2 linked regions of the Homo sapiens genome follow. The protein of the gene in region 2 purifies or fractionates together with the protein of the main gene of each other region. This does not show direct contact. Each region holds a gene or a part of one and is shown on either strand. Other genes may lie near its edges.

Region 1 (2,826 bases), on a different chromosome or scaffold from region 2:
AATTACTACTAATGATAAATTTCCTTAAATATTTTAATCTAATGGTTTTGGGATAGGGTCTAAGAACGTGTTTTTCAACGCTCCCCAGATGTGTGTATAACCAGGGGTGAGAACTACTGCTCCACAGATCTACTCAAACAAGAAAGCCCTTTTTATGGCAAATAGGTTTTCAGGAAACAATAGTGCATGTGAAATGATTTGTTTCTTCCCCTTTCCAGGCTCTGTGAAGGTGTTGGACCAGTAAACATATGTAAGAAACTTGTTTTTTCCTCTTCACACATTTCTCTCCTCTTCAAACTTCCTTTAAACTCAGGCTCACACTGGGGTCAGGAGGCGTCCGACATGGCCGGTCTGGCCACGACAGTCAGGGGAGCTGGGACCATCCAGCCCTGGATGGGGAGCATCTTCTTAGCTGAGGTCTGAGATCTCCCCAGAGCCTGCCTTCCCCAGAGCAAAACATTCATAAAGGTTTTCAAGGCCTCCAAAGTGGAGGACAGCCAGCTTTTTTGCTTTGAGCGGCCTTGTCCTTCAAGGGAACTTAGAAGGACTTAGAAGGACTGGGACTTAGAAGGAATGGGACGCCTCTGCCAGGGGAGCCTCTCATCCCCTGATGGCAGGGAACGCAATAAGGCCAAATGGAAGTCTCCCCACTGCTGCAGCCGAAGCATGGGTTGTACCCAAAGCACGCAGGGCAGTGTGCCGGGCATGGCAGTCTGGGGACACTGGCAAGGCAAGACCCAGCCCACGCTCTCTAGAAATAGAATCTTCTTGAGAAGATGAGTCCTAGCCACCATCAACCTAACACTGGAAGGATCCCTGGGGAGAAAAGCGGATACTGGCATCCCTGTTTTGCCCACTCAGAGAAAGTACATGATTTGCCAGAACTTACAAAGCGAACCAGATTTCAAACCCAGATTTCTGACTCCAAAAACACAAATGAACACTGACGTGTAGTGGAACCGAGTGCTAAACTGGGTGGGTCAGACAGTCAGAGCTACATGTACTTGGAAGACAGTGTCCCTTCCCACTCCCATGGAGGCGGTGAGTGGTCAGGGGAAGCCACAGGCAATGGCTTTCTGCAGGAGGTCAAGCTTGAGTGAACATCATGGATGGCAGGAAGGATTCTGGGTAAGATGAAAGGGCAGGAAAGAGTGTACCCCTCCATGGATGGGGCTGGTCTAGCAAGCTCTTCTGTGGATTTGAGTCCTGAGGCATGGAGTTGTGTCCAAGGGAGAGCAGAGGGCTACAGAGCACAGCCACCAGTGGGTCAGGAGAGAGGCGACAAGGGACTAGTGTTGGAGGGGTTTCCTGTGTGCTGGGCTAGGGGAAATATGGAGACCACCAAGGGGCATAATACAACTGGAAGAGAAAAGGCCCATGGCTTTGTGGAAGCTGCTGTTCCAGCTGTCTGGATAATCCAGCTCACTACCTACATCTCACAACCCAACTTGACTTTAGCCGTATATAAATGACAGTCAACCTATGGATGCATGCAAACATCTGGGGAATTGGATGAAGTCGTCATTTTCATCTGAATGTTTGATTTTAATGTAGTCACAGTCTTTGAGCCATCCAGAGAGGGAAAAAGTGTATACTGACTGTATAGACAATAGGGACCACTTCCCCAGATGCCACAACCCTGACCCCACTCCCTCCCCACCAGACCCGGAGGTGCAGCCCAGGGGTAGCATGGAGGTGGAGGGCCCTGGTGTCGGCAGCCTCCCTGATGCTTTCTTTCTCCGCAGCCGTCAGCAGCTCCCGGGGCGGCCTGGTGTGCGGGCCTGAGCCTTTGGTTGCCGGCTCCACCCTCTCCCGCGGCGGGGTCACCTTCTCAGGTAGCAGCAGCGTCTGTGCCACCAGTGGGGTCCTGGCTTCCTGTGGCCCCAGCCTGGGTGGAGCCCGGGTCGCCCCGGCCACTGGGGACCTGCTGAGCACTGGCACAAGGAGTGGCTCCATGCTCATCAGCGAGGCCTGTGTCCCCAGCGTCCCCTGCCCCCTGCCCACCCAGGGGGGCTTCAGCAGCTGCAGCGGCGGCCGCAGCTCCAGCGTCCGCTTTGTGTCCACCACCACCTCCTGCCGGACCAAGTACTGAGAGCCCAGCCCCAGACAGCTGCTGCCCAGAGAAGAACCAGCTCCACGGCTCCTGCTTCTGCCCCCAGGGTTCGTGGGCTCTGGGCTTGACGGTCTCCAGCTCCCCTTTCTGCCAGGAAGCCACCCCTTAGCACTCCCCCGATTATTCTGCCTGGCCCCATGTCCTCTTGGAGGATTTTTCTGCCATGTAGATGCTCCATTAGCAGTTCCAGCTAAGCTGGCTTCTCCCTGCCTCCCAATTTCTGTCCTTTGGATCACTCCTCTCCCTGTCAGCAACAGCCTGGAGAAATGCACATTCCGTGCAATAACAACAATCCACCCAGTGCCCTCACCACCCGTGGCTTTGGGTTAATTTGGAGAATGGAGTTGACCGTCCACACTGCAGGCATCCTTAACTCCACATCCTTCACTTCCTTCTTCTTCCTTTCTCTGGTAGGAGAAGGTTCTTTCCTTCTCTCCCTGATGAAGGGGATCCCAGTCCTTGGTGGCCCCAGGCTCCCTAAACCCCGAGATGGCTTTTCTCCCAGTGGCTTCTCTCCGGCTGTTTCTCTTCCTGGGTTGTTGGTGTAACTCCAGCATGCAAGTCCACGAGGTGGGGTGCAGGCGGACAGGCGGGCTTTGCAATGATCCCCGTACTCCTGCCCCTGCTCGTGGTGTGAGGCCCAGCCCTGTCCACTGCAGGGTTGTGTCTGCAAGCTCCAAGGAGGCCTGGGGGTTGGGTGGGGTGGGCTGCCT
Region 2 (3,655 bases):
ACAGTGCAATAATTGATACTTAAAATGCTGATTCTAAGTCATTAAGATATACTTAAATTATCCTTAGTTATTTTAAGAATGTAAGGAACAGTGTAACATATTTTAGAAACATTTTCATCCAAACTGTTAAAAATCTTTTAAAAGATAAATCGTTAAAAGGTAAGCTTCAGTTATATAAAAATTCACTTATGTGGAATCCTTTAATGATGCCAGATAAGTAAGGTGTTACTGTGTTGTCTTCTAGGTAAGCCGAAAATAAACTAAAGAAAAAAGTGGTAAAGGTCAAAGAACAAGAACTTTCTTTGATGGAGGTTAACACAAATTCATATGCAATACAAAAAATATATATAAAATGAAAACTAGAAAATACAATTAACCTGAATGTAAAAACTGAAAATAAACATATAGACTAATGGCACCAAGAAATAAGAGGCCAGAGTGGAAATCAGGAAGATTACATAGCAATGTAGATCAAAGAAAAGAGGCAAGTGGTCAGTGATAAGCCCAAACATAGTGTGTGGCTCAGAGCAGCCAGGATATCACTGCACTCCAACCTGAACACTTGAAAAGCCTCCCATGTGCTCAAAAGGGTTTTTAGTATAATAGCCAATTAGCCATCTTAATTCCTCAATTCAGATTTCACGCTCACCAAGCAAACCTGAACATATTAATTTGTTTACCCAGATAAATATTTTGCTGAAGGAGGATGACACCTGGCTACCATTGCACCAGGGTAAATTTGTGACAAAGGACATTGTAGAAGAATCAATGGTATTCTGGTTCATAACTCAGCCTCTTTTAAGTTTGATCGGCATGACAGGTCTTCTAGGGCCTAATCATTCTTTATTGATCAACTCCCAAATTTTCATACCAGCAGACCCTGGAGAACAGATGACCATGCCAAGGTACAATGATGCCCAATGAAATCATTTCTTTCTTGAAACTACAGTGACTTGGTACATAGAGTGCATTCCATTAATGATTACTATATTTACAGAAGGCAGCTTGCCTGTAGCAATGAAAAATATTCATCCTGTAAATGCATCACTTGCTCACTTTCTAAGCAGCCAAGTGGTATTGCTCATTTGTATCTTGAGAACGGGCAAGAGTATTCATATCGGTACCATTTCAGATTTCTAGTCATGTTAGTCATCTGGTTTTAATTGCACTGAAAAATAATTAACAGGAGGAAAAGAAAATAGCAGTTCCCAAATGTCATTTTATGGTTATATAAGCCCCCCAAAAGCCCTTAAACAACAAAAATGTCTCTTCTCTAAAAGTACTTTGGGCCATCAAATTTTTAGAAAAATTAATTAAAAAGTCAAACGACAACTAAATCAATTGAAATGATCTAATCAGGAACTCCTCTAGTAAAATCTTAGAGGAAATATATTTAAAAAGCAAACAAAAAAGGCATGTGCTTCCCTCCTTGGATAAAGTTTGGTCTTAAACAAAAAAATAGGGCATTTGTAGAATGCTTGCTTGTTTTCCTGTCCCCTTTCAAAACAACTCCTATTCGGTGTCAAAGACAAGAAGTTCCAGACTGGCTAACAACAGGTAAAAAATGTTTTGGGATTCCATGCCTATCTTTAAGGAAGAGTGCTTTAGACTAATAGGGGTTATTTTATCCCTTAAATCCCTAGACTCCCTTGTCCTCAGTTAATTTTTAGAGTTTTAGGATGAAAGTATTACATATTAACAATAATAAGTTTTTAAAAGTTTTAAGACAGAATATTGAGAGGATGAGCTAACCTTGTGTCACTGATTAAAATTTGTTATATCCTTCAATATATTCTAAACCAAATTCAGGAAAGTTTCAAAAGTATAGGTAATAAAGAGCATTATCATGCAAAAAGAAAAACAATAATGAAAAGGCAGGGAGGCAATCTTGGAGATTAGGGTAAGCCAAAACCTTAAACACAGATTTTGGGTACATAAGAAATATAACTCACTTTGAAGGTGTAGAAGGGCTGGTGATGCAGGAATTCACCATTTGAGAGGCTTTCAATGGTCTAGAACTATCAGAAAATTAGAAAATATATAATGTATACAAATGAATTATTAAAGATATATATTTAAATTATAAAATGAATTATTCTTACTATAATTCCTTTTATGTCCTCTTGAAAATTGAACAATTATAATACTTTTTAAATTACTAGCAATAGGCCAGGTGCAGTGGTTCACGCCTGTAATCCCAGCACTTTGGGAAGCTAAGTGGGCGAATCACCTGAGGTCAGGAGTTCAAGTCCAGCCTGGCCAACATGGTGAAACCCTGTCTCTACTAAAAATACAAAAATTAGCTGGGTTTGGCGGCGGGTGCTTGTAATCCCAGCTACTCGGGAGGCTGAGGCATGAGAATTGCTTGAACCTGGGAGGCGGAGGTTGTAGTAAGTGGTGATCGCACCACTGCACTCCAGCTTGGGCAACGGAGTGAGACTCCATCTCAAAAAAAAAAAAAATGGCCGGGCATGGTGGCTCATGAGGTCAGGAGATCGAGACCATCCTGGCTAACATAGTGAAAACCCGTTTCTACTAAAAAAATACAAAAAATCAGCCGGGCATGGTGGCAGGCGCCTGTAGTCCCAGCTACGCGGGAGGCTGACGCAGGAGAATGGCGTGAAGCCGGGAGGCGCAGCTTGCAGTAAGCGGAGATGCGCCACTGCACTCCAGCCTGGGCGACAGAGCGAGACTCCGTCTCAAAAAAAAAAAAAAAAAAAAAAAAAATACTAGCAATAGAGGCCAAAAGAGAAAATAAAATACCATCTCTAGGCTCTCCTTGATCCAATAATCTACATAGACAGCACTGGAAATGAAGTCAAGTGTAATACATATGAAAAAAATAACTTGGAGAAAATTACCTTGTCTCAGTTCTTTTAAAGTAATAGCTCTCATTTATGGAGGATTTACTGGATGTCAGACACTGTGCTAAGAACTCTACATATTATTACCTCATTTAATGTTCACAACCATCCTATTGTTTTTCTTATAGACAAGTCAAGGAATCTGTGCAAGGTCTAAAAGCTATCAAATTGTACAGTCAGATAGCTTGGCTTCAGGCCTGTGATCATACACTATTAGTGTGACATAGTACTACTGCCAGCAAGAGTAATAGCTCTACCAGCAGAAGGTAGTATGCACCAAGCAAAAACGTGAAAAGCTGTGAGAGGAAAAAACCAGAAACACTTAGACTCTCTGGGCACATGCCTTTATTAGTAGACCCTTGAGACACTAGTGTAAACTTCTATGAGACGTGGCTCTTTCAGACACTAACTGTATGACTTTAGGAAAATCATTTAATTTCCTTGGTCCTCTTAAGGGTTTGGACAAAAACCTCTAAAATCTCTTCCATCTTCAAAGTTCTACAATTTTATTATTCTACCAAACTAGTGTTCAAGTATAGAAAAGAATGACATAACATATGGCTTCAAAGTAATGCAAGTATGTAGAAAAAAGGGGAACACTCAAAGAAGTCCGAAGGTTTTCCCAGCATACATGATGAAGCAAAAACCTAAAGTAAAGATTACTTCTTTTTTTCTTGAGAAATTTCAGGAGCCATTTAAGTTCTTTACACTGCTGATAATATATGCATGAAGGCATAACATTGAGTATAGGGTTTCTCACATCTGCATGTCCTGAAGAGTCAACTGAAGCA

What was found.
Region 1: the proteins of USP37 (region 2) and KRT84 purify together in Homo sapiens (affinity purification with mass spectrometry; one large-scale study listed by BioGRID and IntAct). This does not show direct contact.

What each region holds. Positions count from the first base shown.
Region 1 is NC_000012.12:52,377,300-52,380,125, reverse strand, and holds the end of KRT84 (keratin, type II cuticular Hb4), read left to right. Parts: intron 1-218; coding exon 219-250; intron 251-1,745; coding exon 1,746-2,092; 3' UTR 2,093-2,314; downstream 2,315-2,826.
Region 2 is NC_000002.12:218,477,698-218,481,352, forward strand, and holds part of USP37 (ubiquitin carboxyl-terminal hydrolase 37), read right to left. Parts: intron 2,019-3,655; coding exon 1,953-2,018; intron 1-1,952. UniProt on the Homo sapiens protein: Deubiquitinase that plays a role in different processes including cell cycle regulation, DNA replication or DNA damage response.